Linked DNA regions of Homo sapiens: region 1 is linked to region 2. The links come from fine-mapping of genetic effects on gene expression. Tissue or cell type: esophagus muscle. Region 2 holds a variant in brackets; the other region holds the start of a gene. All regions are shown on one strand. Distances are from middle to middle.

Region 1 (8,339 bases), 66 kb before region 2:
ACTTCAATGTTAATAGTAAAGAACCATTTGTGCCTTTTTAATTGAAAGGGATTTTATTTCACTGTAACATAGAAAACCTTGGAACTACTTTGATTTTGGAAGTATAAACATAAAAGGTGAAGCAAACGAATGTTTGCCTAACTGCTATGTGCGAGCTGCTTGGCTAGACCCTTTGCACGGGGGGTCAATTACATTCTGTTAAAGGGAGATGGTGGTAACTCCAGTTTCCAGTAAACAAAAGAAGTAGGCAAAGCTGCTGTACACTCACTGGTTAGTCTATTCAATATTGTTTTAAGGGAAGATGATCAAAAAAGAAGAATGGTGCCTGGTGGAATTTAGTCTTCTGTAGTATCAGAAGTATTTGCACAGCTGGAGACTGCAGGTATAGAACTACTCATTTTTCACTCAGGAGGGTTATGTGTAGGTGTGTTGGGCCAACAGAAGGGTCCTTTCTTCACATTTTGGTTATTAGAATCTGTTGGTTCTCAAATTCCATACCAGGTAGGCAAACATTCATTTCCTTTACCTTTCTATTCCCAACCAGAGATTGTGGTCTTTATGTGCAATTAGAGTCAATCTGTGACTGTCACTGTCCCTCTTTCACAAAATTAAGGAAGACATTGCAAGCATCCTCAAAAATTAAAATAGCAGAGGGAACTCCTAACTTTCCTGAACTTAAATTTGCCTGACTCCTCACACTAGCAACCCATCTCTAAGGCAGGCTTCTCCATTGCCAGCTCTAGCCTTCGTAACTGCCCTTCTCTCTTCCTCTAAGCCTCCTCCTCATTAGCAATAAAATATATATCCCAATGTAGAACCCAACTTAGTTCCCATCATCTTACCAGAAGTGCCCCCTACCCCCGCCCCAAGCACTCTAAGGGTGCTCTGGAAAGGTACTTGATCATTTGAAGACTATTTTTTTGCAGTAGGAGTGAGATACAATTTTAAGATCGCGATAAAATGCTGGGGACAAATTTCCTAAATTTCTCAAACTCTTTTGATGTAGCTCTAAATTTTACCATTAAAATATCCATTTGTGGTCACAGAAAAGGTGAAAATCAGCTTTCTGATTTGGTACTTATTACATGAGGTTGGTTACTTATAGAACTTACAAATAATGTTGTTTCAGTGGCTTTGTTTCATTATACTGGGTGGTCCATTTAAAACACTGTCAATACAACCCCAGTCCAAAAAAGGATTTACAAATGGGCCACTTTACACAACAGCTATGGTGAGGATTATATAAGTACTCTAAGGTTCAGAGTTTATTTTGTGTAAATACGGTCTAGACTCATTATCTTATCCCCAGTGTAAATACGGTCTAGACTCATTATCTTATCCCCATCTCCCAGCCTGGAGCAAGCGAGTCAGCGAGAGAGAGAGAGAGAGAGAGAGAGAGAGAGAGAGAGAGAGAGAGAGAGAGACAGAGAGAGAGAGAGACAGAGAGAGAGAGAGAGAGAGAAATAAACCTGGTAAGAAAACAGGAAGGAGATGCAGATTTGGGGGGAAAAATGCTAAAAGAAACATTTAAGGTGGCTCTCTGTGAATGACAAAGCTGGGCCGTAATACAGGTGGCTAAAGCTGAAAAGAAGCAGAATAAGGAGTCTGGACTGTACCTGAAAATCCCCAAGTCAGACCTGCAAGGCCAAGCCTTGCTCAGTAATGAACCCTCTGATATGTGGGGTGAAGCCATGAACAAGGTGGAAAGCCACACCTCCCAGGGAACTGAAGTCCCCAGGCTTGATACTCACGCTGACACTGTCCCCAAGACTGGCGAGCCCAGCCCCAGCAGCAGTCAATCCTCCCACCATAACGACATAGGCCAATCGATGACACTATTTGCCTGGGCCACCTACCAAAAAAAAAGATTCAAAATAAATAAGGACACTTTTGAGAAGAAAGGTAATTTCCTCTGTATTATTACTTCAGAAAAAATGTCAACCACACCCAACAATTTTCTACAAACTCTTTTATGCCTGCAGAAATTTAAGGTTAAAACACCTTCACAGAAATAGTTCTGCTATGATCTAATGTCAAATTTCAGACAGTTAAATACCCCATCCCCCAACACACAAGGGTAGGAGAAAAAACGGGAGGGAAAGATGCTTTCTTAAGTAGAAATAGCACCAGCTAACACCAACAATTCTCAAGGCTGCCACTCACAGGATAGTTTCTGAAGCTTGAAATAAAACAGATTCCTCAAAGACCCACACCTGTTACTGGGGTGAAAGCCAGGTTTGACTGATTCACCATAAACTGAAAAGTATTAAGTAAGACATGTCAAAGCAGAAAAAATTTCTGCCTCATATAAAAGGTGGATGGGGGAAGGAGCAGAAAGGTTTCTCAAAAATCAAGTGTAACAGAGCTCTTTTTGAGACATAACTGTGGCAGAAACAAAAAAAACAAAAAAGTACTAGAAAAAAGTCTAAATAAAACCAAGGAGAGTTTAAAGTGTAGCTGATATCTCAAGTATCCTTGTGGTTTGAAACGTGCTTAGATCAACAATTCATAGTATTTTCCTCTCTAATGTAAATAATGCCTAAAGAAAGTAATTTCAGGATACAGATTTATCCACCTGATTACACGTTGACACATTATTTGCTAAATTGTTTCCTTGTTTAGAGTCACACCTAAATGACTTTTTTCCTCTGGGTATCAACATTTTAATTTGCTGTTTTAGACATCTTTTTAAAGTTACAAAAAGCTATATGCATTCACATCATATGCATATCTTGTGATGGGTTTCTTGTTGCAAATATGTGTGCAAGAAATGCATAACATACCCAAATGTGAGCACAGAATTGCTTTTAAAAATAAAATAAAAAGGTCTACACTCTGGCTGCTATCACGTTTTCTTAAAGTCTCCTTATCTTTTTCAATTCCCCTTTTCTTTTACCTGCCTTTCTACCCCCAGGCCCAAAGTACAAAATAACCCCGAACTTTCTATTTCCTCCGACCAGGTAGTGAACAAGCAGCTGTGCTTTTTCTTGGCGCTCCACTGGTTCCCCTCCGTTCGCCTCCGGGTACAAGAAAGCGAATCAATTGTGGAATTGATTCGTTCCAAGATTAAAGGTAAAACAGGTGCGGCATCTTTCTTTAGGACTAGGCAGGGACCTACACGGAGGGGTGGGGGCAGAGGTCGCTGAAGGAAGGCGACCGGGCGACGGTGTGCGCCAGAGTAAAACCTCTTTTCGCAGCAGCCATCTGCACCCGGGACGAGCCTAGTCTGTAATTGCACAGAGGTGAGGGGGACCGAGCACACCCTCCCGACAGACCCAGTGTCTCTCACACACCGGAGCGGCCCCGGAGCGCGGGAGGACCGGCTGAGTGACAGCGGAGACGCGGCCCGAGGTTGTTGGAACCTGTCACAGCACGCCGCCGTCAGGCTCGCCCGAGTCTGAGGAGCGGCGCAGTGTGTGCGCTCTCACACACACATCCACACACTCATGCTCACATTCACGGAGCGCCCACCCTCCGGTCCTCATTTTGAGTCTCCTTCCCTCAAGAAAACCAAATGGAGAGGCCCACAAATCTCCCCCGTAGCCCAGTCGCTGACTCGCACCCACTCTCTGTGTGAGCGGCCCCGAGAGCCCTGAGCAGAGCCCGGGCCTCCCCCCGGGGGCCTGGAAGCTTCCCCAGTGAAGAGCCGTCTAGTTCAGGCGCGGGAGTTTCCCGGGTAAGGGATGTTTCGCGCGTCACCTCGGCGTAGGTGGCTAAACCGCGCCCTCAGAGCCGAGATCCCAGGCTCCAGCGGCTCCTCTCCCTCAGTCCTAATTCCCGAGCCGGGGCGAGTCGCCCTCGGGGGGCCGCGGATGGGGTCCCAGACTCGCAAGGGCGCGCCCTCTCCGCCTCGGGCGGGCACTCGGAGCCGCTGGACCGCTCTCCTCGCGCCACGCTGTGCGGTGGCCCAACTTCTGGATGGAGGAGACGCCTCTCTGACCACGAAACCCCGCGGGGAAAAGTGACCCAAGACAGTGAGTGTGAAATTAGCGCGGGAAGGAGGAGAGGGCGCCCCGGGGCCCAGCTCACCTCCCGTCGAACTCGGCGGCCGCCTGCAGGTAGAGCGAGGATACCAGCACCAGCGCCAGGAGAAAATCCATGTTGGGCAGCGGGTCCTGGGGCGCAGCGCAGTGGCGCGCGAGGAACAGGTTGGGGTGGTGGGCGCCGATGGGAGGCGCCCCTCTGAGAGTCTCGAGGAACCCCCAGCCCTCGCCGCCCGGGCTACTGCTGCCGCTCCCGGAGGACAGCGGCGAGGCGCGCGGCCGGAGCAGGTCTGCTGCGCGGCGCCCGGAGCCCCCTCCCGCTCCCTTCTAGCTAGGGGAGGCGCTGCAGGGGTAGCTGCACCGCCCGCGGGGAGGGGCGCCAGGGGCGGGCAGGGGGTGCGCGTGCGCCCGACTCGCCGCCCTCCCAGCCCCGGGCGAAGGGTGAGCGCGCTCCGCTCCTCCCGGGGGCCCAGCGGGGCAGGCAACTCGGGGGCAGGGGCGCTGCGGGACGGCAGTGGCTCTTGGGGGTTAGCCAAGCAGGGCGAGCCCCAGCCTGGGAGAAAAGTTGCAAACCCTCTCTGGGAGAGGGAAAGCAGGGTGCCCAGCAGGAAAGGGGAGTGGAGGAGGAAAGGAGCCCGAGGCGTAGGTGCACGCTCCGCAGGTTCCGCCCGAACAGGTGGTGACTGCAGGGGCGAGCAGTAGCTTTCACCGGAGGGCGGAGAAGCCCTAGAGCAGAGAGGTTTATGGGGCTGGAGCTGAGCAGTGTCTGCATTTACTAAAACCACAGCACGACTTGGACAAATTAGCGAAGGCAAACTCTGGGAGTTTGCTTTTCCCGCAGAGTTGGCAAAGGCATATTTTTTATTTTGTAACTAACCAAAAGAAATATTTGGCTCTCCAGTCGGGTTTTGAAGAAGAAATGAGCAGACTGTTTCTGTCTCTATCAGCTCAACTCCCGAGCACATTAGGACAGGACTGCCCCTCTAGGGATGAGTGCCTGCCAGAGAGGAAGGGCTGCTACTGCCTAGTAGTGTTGTGGTGCCTGATCTTGAGGGGATCACTTAGAAACCATTTTAAGTAATCATTGTTCAGTTGTTGCAGAGTAAAAAGTATTGTACTAAATGACTGTGTTCAAATGAAAACATGATTATCCTAAGATGTACATGAGCCCAATCAAGTCACCCCTCTTCCCAACCTTACCTCGAATGACAGCCTTGTGCAGTGATCATCTGTCATCTCCCGTACCTCTCAATGTCCTCATTTCTCTTCCTCCAGTCCATGGCCTCCTTGCCTTTCTTGCATGTTCCAGGCATGCCCCTGCCTTGGGGCCAGTAACTGGCTGTTTTCTCTATCTGGACCCAAATATCTACATGGCTCACACCCTCACTTCCTTCAGTCTTTGCTCAAATGTCACCTCTTCCAGGAGGCCAATCATGATCATCCTATTTAAAACTGCAACTTGCCCTCTGCAAATATCTACATGGCACACGCCCTCACTTCCTTCAGTCTTTGCTCAAATGTCACACCTCTTTGAAGAGGCCAGTCATGACCATCCTATTTAAACCTCTAACTTGCCCTCCTTCTGATGATCCTTGGCCTGTCCTACTTTGTCTTTTCTCCATACCACTCATCTTTTATATTACTATATAACTTGCATATTTTTTGTTTGTATGTTTTCTTTCCGCTAGAATGCAAGCTGTACAAAGGCAGGTATCTTTATCACCTAGAACACTGCCTGGCACATAGTAGGTGCTCATAAATGTTTATTCAATTCATTTGCTACATTACAAACGTTTTCCCCCCATCTTCATTTTCTTTTTGAGGTTTCTACAACTTCAAATTTTTAATGGAAAGTTCTGTGGTAGGGTGATTCACTATCCTGATCATTCAGTGTGTGTAAAAACAGGAATTTTCTTCAAGGAAAGGAAAAATAATGGTTTCAACTTAAATGGCTCTTTGATTTCTAAGTTGTTTTCAGTTAGCAAAACAAGTTTCTATTTTAATCTCAAGAAAGATCCATGCCAATTCAGGCTTGGGACATTATTTTAGGCAAACAGCTTGGTGTCATCCATTTCAGGTCCTTCTAATGAAGTCCAAAAATGTAGGAGTCAAAATATTTTTTCTGCAGAAAATCAAATTTTTGTAAGTGTAGGCATGGTTCCAGGTTCCAGTGGCTACTCCTTAGCTGTTTTTGTTTGTTGGTTGGTTAGTTGGTGCCTGGGTTAGATTTACAAATAAACCTCACTGTGTGCAATGGATGATTAGAGAGAAAGGGGGTAATATACGGCTAAAAAACTGGAGATCTAAGGAAAAGACGAAGAGTGGTGGATGAAAACAGGATAAATAACTGGAGGGAAAAGTGTAATGCCCCATCTACATGCGTCTTTCTTTTGTTTTCCATATATTTGCTTTGGCCTAGAAAACACTCCTTCTTCATTTAAATTTAGCCTCCTCTTCATTCCTCTTCCTTCTTCATTTGGACAATCTCCCCTTACCCTTTGAGTTTAAATTTAGCCGACAGTCCCCCAGGAAGCCTTTTCTGACTTTTTGATTGGCTGAGACTAGTGTTTTATATACTTCTATTACACTTAGCATGCTCTAAGGTAGCTCTTAATGTATTGTGTTGTCATTGCCTCCCTACCACTCTGGGTCCCGTGAGACATTAGTCTAACCAATAGAAGGGCCAGGGCAGTGTCTGTCTTGTCACTATATCCCTTATCCCCAGCACAATGCCTGGCACAAAGCTTAAGTTCAGCAAAGATTAAACAGATGGATTGGATTAAATTGAATTCTGCCTGTGAACTTTAGCTTCTCCCTTCAGTAAAATGTAGCTAATTATATCAGTCTTTGTTAAATCATGGAATAAGGAGAATCTAAAGGATTTCCAAGGTCTAACTGGTTATTATGCTGCAACTATGACCACCAATGATCATTCCGAAAAAGAGGCAGAGTTGCCATGGGAGTGACATTTCATTATCTCAGTCTTAAAAACAAATGAGCAAGAATGAGATCAAAACAGCTAGCTTTTAGCAATAACTACTTTTTCAGGAGGACAAACTTTTGATAGGCTTCTTACCAGGTAATGACACCTTGCAGGTAGTAATCTCAATTTTCTCGTGCACAAATAATTTTCTGTGACCATTCATAATGTGATACAGATAAATAGCAAAACAGAATCAAACAAACACAACTTCAGACCTTTCAAATTTAGAAGCTCATAGTCTTTTTTCTTTTCAGTAAATATTTATTAAGGACCTATAATGTATTGGCCATTTCTAGCTAGGTGCTAGGATTTCAGCTAAGGACAAGACAAAGTCCTGCCCTGAAAGGGTTTACATTCCAGTGGGGGAGCAATACAGAAGGACTATGTAGAGAAAAAAGGAGTAAGGAGAGGATAAAGGGAGGTTACGGTTGTAGAAAATGATGGAGGTGTGATTGTAGATGGAGTGCTTTGGTCACCTTTGGGGAAGTAACATTTGAGCAGAGACTGAATGAAGTGAGGGAGAGAGCCACGTGAGGGTGTGGGATGCAGCCCATGTCCACGCAGACAGTAGAGCGGTGTGTTTTCTCTATCAAGCTCTGAAATGACTTCTCATAGTTGGTGTCATACAAACCATTAAACAAGATATTGCTCCCTCTCTTCCCACACCCCATACACAGTAGTGGCACAGGCATAGGATGACTGCTTTTAAAAGCTCCTATTAAGATAAAGATACACATAGCTTCTTGTTCACAGCAATTTTGACTCACAGCTGAGCAAGAATTATGGAGACTCTCTGTTCTGGCAGTGCAGAAAGTGCCTTGGTTAGACATTTGGGATACTCTGCTTCTCTTAGAGGAACTACCTTGTCCATAATTTTCCATAGCCATATCAGAAGTGACTGTTACAGAAAATGCCTTCCTAGGGGGCTGCATATCATTCACAACCCCTTTTCTGCTGATAAAAATTTGAAGGCTTGAGTATTGCTTTAAGGAGCTAACAGATTCATGGTTTCTGTGGCAACTAGATTTCCTTAAAACCGTAATAGGCTTCTGATCTAATTGCTTCCAGTCAGTTGCTTGTGGAAATAACAGCAAAGTCTTTTCTAGTCCTAGTTCTGAAGGCTGCTCTATTTCTTTGCTTCCTTGTATCCATACTTTACTTTCTCATCTTAATGGAGGGCCACCTTGAGGCTAGCTGAAATAATAGTGTTGCTTAGGAGGGCGATACCTTACTCTGATCCTTGCCACAAGGCTTGGATCCCTGCATTTTTATTAATGTTTGGGTCACAAAAACAGCTGTCTTCTTCAGCCCTGAGAGGCCCTTAATTTCTGGACATTCTCACTTCCTTCCATTTCTGCTTGCAAAGCAGCCAG
Region 2 (8,339 bases):
AAAACACATATCCTTAAGTATATCTATACTTACTATAATCTTACTACAAATGAGATAATTATGAAAATTCTTAGGCCAAATAAAGCCTAAATAGGACTCTCAGTGAAAATCAGATGTGGGGATTCTAAAAGATGAATAACCTGTACTGGATTTTGACAAAAAACACCAAAAAAACCCCTCACATCTCCATTTCATTCTGAACAAACATAAATTGTAATGAATTATAATCTTCCCTCACCAACTTCAGGGTAGGGAGGGGCTCTCAGGGTAAAGAGGAGATTTTCTGTAAATTTTAGAAACTTTTTTTTTTTTTTGAGACAGAGTTTTGCTCTTGTTGCCCAGGCTGGAGTGCAATGGCACAACCTCGGCTCACTGCAACCTCCGCCTCCCGGGTTCAAGCAATTCTTCTGCCTCAGCCTCCCGAGTAGCTGGGATTACAGCATGTGCCACCACGCCTGCATACTTTTGTATTTTTAGTAGAGATGGGGTTTCACCATGTTGGTCAGGCTGGTCTCCAACTCCCGACCGCAGGTGATCCGCCCACCTCGGCCTCCCAAAGTGCTGGGATTACAGGCATGAGCCACCGCGCCCAGCGAAAGTAAAATATTATAAACCAGATGCCCCCTTTGAACTGGAAAGCTAAAAACAATACAAACAATACTCTATCAGGAAGAGGAAAGCAAGATCTCTGTTCTTAATCCTCCTCCTGAATTCCTCCTCCTCCTTCTAGACTTACATGAGCCACATAGAAGTCAACAATCTCCATGTTGCTGTCATCCCACCTTTCTTGTTTCACTCTGAAAACAGCCTAGGAAGGCTGGTATCCAGTAAAGGCAGCAACAACTACAGGGAATGGGAAAGTAAATAACCTTGATTTCTCATCTGCTTCTTTTAGTCAGCTTTTCAGAGTAAAAAACAGGCTAATCCTTATTTTCATGACTAGTTGGAGAAAATTTCATAGTAAAAATTATAGACACATCTTCCCCTGGAGGGAAAGCAAACTGACATTTACTGAGTGTTTATGTGCTGGCACTATGCTGTGCTGGGTGATGGCACTCAGAACTATGCTCACAACATCCCTGAAAGACTTTATTATCTCCAATTTAGATGCGAGGAAATGAAGTCTTGGGAAATTAAGAACTTGCCCACAACAAAACAGCTACTGAGGGGCAGGATGCTGACCTCAAAGCCTGACCCCATGTATCAGGCGGCTTCTCTACAAAACCCTCTTCAGGCTCTGAGCAAAAAAGAGTTTAGAAAATTTACTTTTATAAGTCTCTCTTTACTTAGGTTCACATTCCTTACACTACATGCAAAAAAGTGAGTTTATTTCCTTCATTTAAATGAAATAAGTAACTTGAATAACTATACAATAGTTTATAGATAATGTAATAATTGTCTACTAATAATAGGTTTTTGGTCGAAAAGGTTTTACTGCATCACATGCTCCTAGTTTTCACTGTTATCAAATGAAACTCAGAAATAACAGGCAAATAATGAGAGATATAGACCAAAAAAAAACCATTGGATATGGAAATTTATCATACAATAAAGGTGGTATTTCAAACCAGGGAGAAAAGATGGACTTTTTAATAAGTAATGTTTGGTTAACCAGACAGCCATATAAAAAAATAAAAATTAGATCTTTTCCTCTCATCACACATAGGAAATAAATTTTGAATGCATTAGAGATTTAAAATGCAATAAATATGAGTAAATTCCTGCACAACCAAGGGGAATGGGAAGTAATTCCTAACTAAGCTAAAAATCTACGTGCAATAAGGGGTAAGGTTAATAAATCTGACAAAATAAAATTTATTTTTATTTATTTATTTATTTTTGAGATGCAGTTTCGCTCTTGTCACCCAGGGTGGAGTGCAACGGTGTGATCTCGACTCCCTGCAACCTCTGCCTCCAGGGTTCAAGCAATTCTCCTGCCTCAGCCTCCCAAGTAGCTGGGATTACAGCTGCCCACCACCACACCCAGCTAATTTTTGTATTTTCAGTAGAGACTGGCAGAAAACCAAACCATAAGTAAAAAGACAAATGACAAAGTAGGGAAAGGATTGACAACTTACAGCACAAACAAAAGGCTTATATTCTTAATATATAACAAACTTCTAAAAAGAAAGAAAAAGCCCAATAAAGTGAGAGTAAAATGAGCAAGAGATGTGAACACACAAACAAAAACAAGCAAAGAGTTCTTAAACAAAAATTGGTCAATATTGCTCCAAGTAAGAGAAATAATTGTTAATATTTTTTTTAACAAAGAGCCAAGATTTAATCTCAATGTGTCTGACTCCAAACCAAACTTCTTTTTTTAGTTCTCTATGCTCTATTTACTCTTTTCTTTAGATATGGAAGTAAACAGAGAGTCACTGACTGGACTTCTAGACCCAGCCCCCACATTAACTTGCTAGGTCACTCTTCCTTTCTTGTAGCCTCAAATTCTCTACCTGTAAAAGGAGAAGGTTGAACTGAATGATCTCTAAACTTGCCCCAGCCCAATCATTCTCTCCGGTGTTGCTTTTCGAAGAAGGATTCTTAACTCTAGATACCTTAGACAGAGAAGCAGGCTAGTCCCACCTGTGTACTCTTGTTTCCCCTCTTTTAAAACTTTCATACAACAATATTATAGGTAATCAGCTTTAAAATTCAAATAATGCTAAAAGGTATGCAATTATATTAAAAGTCCCTGTTTTGTACACACTGCCACACCACTGAAAGAAAATCTGTGTACCAAAGTCAATGCTGTTCAACTCATTGGTTTACTTCCTGAAAATCTGTTTTTCTATATGATGAACGTATATTGATATCTCTTGATTTGTAAATATTAGACATTATTTATTATCTTTCTACTAGGAGAGAAGAGCTTTTGGCCTTTTTTTTGCACATTTATACACTATCTTCCCTTTTTCCATCTTTTCTCATGGTTTTGTATATACTGTTCACTGCCGAGGGAAGTGTGCTGGATATCAGGGTTTCTGCTTGTTTTTTTAACATCCAAGTTGTTCCCTACCCAAAAGCTCTGTAAAATGCTCTACAATATAAATTTCCACTGTTTGAAAACTTTCAAATAATTGGTCAGCTCCATTTTTTCTTTCCTAGAGACATCTTTCCTGGGCTTTCTGACGTTTTACTAAAATATGGACTCAATGCTTTCTAGGCCTGTTGCCCAGCTCTTGCCCTAAGACTTCCCTCTCCCATGATACTAAAAATTTTTCTCTTGTATTGGATACCACTTAATCCTTTTTCTTATTTACTTTATATTTTAATGAAGCACATTATCTAGTAGCTTGCTGAAAAGGGGTATGTACAATGTACATTTTATTGAGACCTTGACTGTCGAATTTTTCTTTATTTTACTTTTTTTTACTAGACTGATGGATTAGCTAGGTATAGAATTTTAGATTAGAAGTTTTCTGTTAGAATTTTCGAGATATTGTTTCACTGTCACTGAGCCTTCCACACTACTATTAAGAAGTGTGATAGCATTTTGATTCTAAATTATGGTATATCACTATTTTTTTTTCCCTCTGTGGAAACAGTTGGGAAAATCTGTTCACCCTTGGTGTTCTGAAATTTCACAAGGTGCCTTGGCTTAGGCCATTTTGTAAGTTAACTTTATCAAAAGAAATGCATTCTTAATTATTAACACATTTTCCTGTATTTTCTTTGATGTTTTCCTCCCCACGATTTACCAGTTTTCTTTTTCTGGTCCTGCTATTACTGAGGTATTTGATTCCTGGACTAAATCTCTAATTTAAAAAATTTGCTTCTTTCCAGTTTCATTTTTCTTTTTCTTTTTTTTAAGTTCTATTTTTTTCAAGTGGTATCCTATACTTCTTTAAAAAAATACTTTATCTCTTAATTTTTAATTTGTTTTCAATTTTGGCTAACATTTTTATTTTTCAAGACGTCCTTTCTTGTTCTCTGATCGTTCCCTCTTTTTCTATTATATCCTTGTTTCACTAATGTATTATCTTCTTTAGTCTCTCCCTAAGACCCTTGATTATGTTTGTTGCTTTGGTCTTGATATGGTTTGACTATGTCCCTACCCAAATCTCATCTTGAATTGTAGCTCCCATATTTCCCACATGTCATGGAAGGGACCCAGTGGGAGGTAACTGTATGATGGGGGTGGGTCTTTCCCATGCTGTTCTCATGATAGTGAATAAGTCCCATGAAATCTGATCGTTTTATAAAGGGGAGTTTCCCTGCACACACTCTTGCCTGCCACCATGTAAGATGTGACTTTGCTCCTCATTCGCCTTCCTCCATGATTGTGAGGCCTCCCTAGCCATGTGGAACTGTGAATCAATTAAACCTCTTTTCTTTATAAATTACCCAGTCTTGGGTATGTCTTTATTAGCAGTGTGAGAACAGACTAATACAGGTCTCTATCTTCCATTTTGGAAGTTTTCCATGTTTGGTATTCCTTTAGCTGTTCATATTAAAGAGTAAACCACTAAAAAGTTGATTGGAAATTCTGAATGAAAGAGTAAGGCTTTGAAAACTGGTGGGCTTCACCAGTGATTGGGTGATCAAAAAGCCTGGA[T/C]AGGTGCCTTTCTTTTTTTTTTTTTTTTTTTTAATTATAGCTGTAGTATCTGTAGTTCTTTTCTCTGGGGACAGTTCTGCTTCTACAGAGAAGAATCTTTTAATTCTCATGATTGTGGAAATGATCCTGGTTTCTGTGGTTCTGGAATTAGAAGGCAGATGGGTAGGGAAGAGATCTATCCTTCAGTATGCAGATTCTCATTTAGTTCTTATTCTTGGTATGGCACATCACCATTGCCCTTCTCTATGCCTGATATCTCTATACTTGGTGCCTCTCTGGTTCAGTTTCTTCTACAGAATAAACTTCCTGTCTCTCTTAGGAGTTGGGGAGAGGTAGTTTCTTGTTTACACAAGACGAGAGCAGGAATCTTGTCTCTAAATAATATTTTTAATTAAACACGATTTCAGTCCCTCCCTATTCATTTCCTCTGAGGTTTCTGATGCTCTGAATTCCCAAACTTTTCTGGGATTCTGTGGGAGCAAAGTGGTTTGTGTCCTGATAGCCTTCTTGCCACTCTGCCTGGCATGCATTTAAATTTTATCTTCCTTCTCCTCTACTCAATAACTTATCATTTTTCTTCAATCTGCTTTTCACCTTCACACTTCATATTGTGATTCAAGTTACAGAATGTTGAATATAGCTTCATCATAGAGTTTGATTTTTCTGATTCTTGTTCTTGTTATTTGGGGATCTGAACTTTTTTGGGGAGAAGCGGGGTTGAAATACCTCTATCTGCTATTTTCATCTCAGAAGTCCCCTATTTTGCCTTAATGATTTTTAAAAAGCGTGCCTGCAGAATATATAATTTCTCAAGGTCCTTATCTTTTAAAACAAGGATTATATAATTACTCATCAAAAATGTTACTGAATTACAGTCTATAATTACACATGCTTCTTTTAATTGTACACTAACATACATACATAAATAGAAATGAGCTTATAATTAACTAGTCAGCACTTATGAGTGATAAACAATAATTAAAAATTATGTTGTGGGCAAAATAGCAAAAAGCAAATACCAATAACTAGAAAATAAAACTGTTTTGAGATTTTCATATACATGTTGATGAACAGAAAGGATTCGCCAATACTGTTAGAAATCAGTACCTTATCATCTGGTTGAAATGACTGTTTGTTATTGTTGAAATTTTCCAACTAAACATGTTGGTGGCAGGCTGTTTAGCCTTGATACGGTTTTTGTTTTTAATGCAAAATGAGCATTTTTCCATAGTCATGACCCTTTATGTAATACTATTTGCAAATAAATATTTGTAATATTGTTTGAGAGCATGGGTATTAATACACATATTATAAAATTTAATAATTTAAAAAGACTTAGTTGTTTCTAAGTCTTTTAAAATTCTTTCATTAAAATCTTGTTTATACTATTAATTTTTATATCTAAAGAAAAATAGTAAATGAAAAAAATAAAGCATTTACTAAGCAAAGATAAATGCTAACTAAGCCCTTATTGAAATGTCACAAAACCATGAATTTATGCAGTTTTAATGCATTTCCAATATCTGGTTATTCTGCTTTCCTCTCTAGCCACAATATTTTTTAAATTTTTTTGTGTGTATACTGGAACACATTTAACACAGGAGTTAGAACCTCTGATGCATTTAGTCTAATTTACCTAGTGACAATATCTCAATTACTCTCCTAGGCAAATTATTCTCTTCAGAGTGAATCTACTTTTAATTTAACCTTCTAAGCAATTTTAATCCATTTTCTATACACCTTGACAAGGGTAATTATGAAAGGAAAAAAAGTCATTATAGATGTATTACAAAATGTAGAGAAAAATTTCACTTCCAAAGAGATATATACATTTTTAGTTGGCATTAGTAAATTATACACTTGGAAGTTACAAGAATATGCTAGAGTGATTTAGCATCTATAAGTCATGAAGGGCCAAGAGACGGATGGAACAGACATAGGCTGGAAATTCCATGCTTTGTGAGGTAAATAAATGGGTAGCAGTCCACATTTACTTGCTACCATTCTGTCTGGTGTACTGGTAATATCTGGACTGGTTTAATGGCTTGTTTCATGGGAGAAGCGCTAAACTTTACCTCAACATTTATGTAAAGTTAAAGCTGCACAGGTATTTTTTAATTTGAATTTTCTAGATTACATGTCTACATTTTCCTGAATTTCCTTATTAACAGCCAGGCTTATAAAAAGAGAAGTAAACTGTAGATCGTGTCTGCAAAGGAAACGAATAGCATATTTTTTAGGTTGGAAAAAAATTACAATAAACCCCCAAATTTGCAGTAGTCAATATTTAAGAAATAAATTTCACTGGGTAAAAATCAGAAATACTATAAAAGGTCTGAATTAGTTAAGTTGATAAAAGTTCTACCTAGACAACCACATGTTTATATGAACATATGTAATTAGAAAGGATGTCAGTAAGAACCTTCCTGGAAAGTGGTTTGGCAAATGCATCAAAATTCTTAAAGGATGCATAAAATATCCATCATAGTAATAATTGCATTATAACAATGAGAAAAAAAAGTATGATTAAAAAGTAGGTAAAAGATTTTTAACAGTATTCAGTCAATGCAGGATCTATGTAGTATGGTCTTAACAATGTTCACATATGTGTAAAATATGCATTTATATGCGTGCATAAATATAAAAAACTAAAGATTTTTGATAGTATTTATCACTTGATAGTAGGCATATAGGTTATTTCTTCTTTATATTACTATGTATTTTTCTGTATTACTATCAAAATGTATATTCCTATCAAAATCAGAAAAAAAATTATTTAAAGCAAATATAAGAAATAGCAGCAACACTAACATGTTCATAAAACTCAAAGTCTACAAAAAATAATAAAACCCTGGGGTTTAATGATCAGGCAGAATTACATATCTTAGGGATTTTTCATAATATCAAATAATAACAATTTGATCCAAAGGTTTAGAAACATGATCAATATACTTTCTCTCTTGGAACCTGAAAATACATGTAAATATAAAATCTTAGCTAAAAAAAATCACAAGGCAATGCTTGTATTTAGAGATTACTAACAAGTTATTTTCTTTTCTTCTTTTTTCTTTTCCTTCATTGTCTTCTAAAAATGCAGAATAAACCAAGGCAAGTCATGTTCATCAGAATCAATTATTCAATTATTAACCAGTTTTCAGCACTTGCTACTGGGGATTCTGTAGTGAAGAAAATAAAGTTCTGGTCTGATAGAGGAGCCAATGTTATCTCTGTTATGTAATGATGAAGTGCTATGAATATAATAATATTCATTAATATGCTATATTTCATAGATAATATAAGTATACAAAATTATAAATTTGTTTGGCAAAGAACACAAAATTATCTTTTTTATTTACTCTAAGGCATGTAATTTTTCTTATTTAGCTAATTAAAGAAATTGAAATTACTTGATTACTTACTCCAATATTAAACATCCCAGTAAAATATTCCATATTTGCTTGAATGAACCAAATGTTGCTTAAACCCAGTTCATCACTTCTCTTCTTAGCACGAATTAATGATAATTCCTTGTTTTCTATTAATGTAACCTAGATTTTACCCAGAAAACAATAGTATATTTAGTAACATAATTCAGACATTAGGCAAAGCATTATCACTATATTTCATAGCTTTAATAATGTAGAACGTATTATATTGAGCCTCTATTCTGTGGCAGGAAGTATGTCACATAATCTGGTACAGAAAGGAAAAATGAAAGGTCTTTGAACTATAGTGATATAGCTTTGAAGCATAGTGATATAAGTGAAACAAGCAATAATAA

What was found. PIP is the estimated chance that this variant, and not a neighbour inherited with it, causes the effect.
Region 1: NPNT starts here. The variant in region 2 is fine-mapped to the expression of NPNT in esophagus muscle (GTEx, PIP above 0.99).

Annotation. Positions count from the first base shown.
Region 1 is chr4:105,891,414-105,899,752 of GRCh38, reverse strand. It overlaps NPNT (nephronectin), which reads right to left and starts at 4,282. Exons shown (of 12, transcript NM_001033047.3): 1 at 4,030-4,282; 2 at 1,752-1,852. The coding sequence starts at 4,100. RefSeq lists silencers at 3,127-3,421, 3,660-3,869, 4,030-4,599, 5,524-5,573.
Region 2 is chr4:105,825,439-105,833,777 of GRCh38, reverse strand. GSTCD (glutathione S-transferase C-terminal domain containing) reads right to left here. Exons shown (of 12, transcript NM_001370181.1): 8 at 7,978-8,106. GSTCD-AS1 (GSTCD antisense RNA 1) reads left to right here and starts at 6,606. Exons shown (of 4, transcript NR_125927.1): 1 at 6,606-6,665. The variant T/C (reference allele first, on the strand shown) is at 4,559.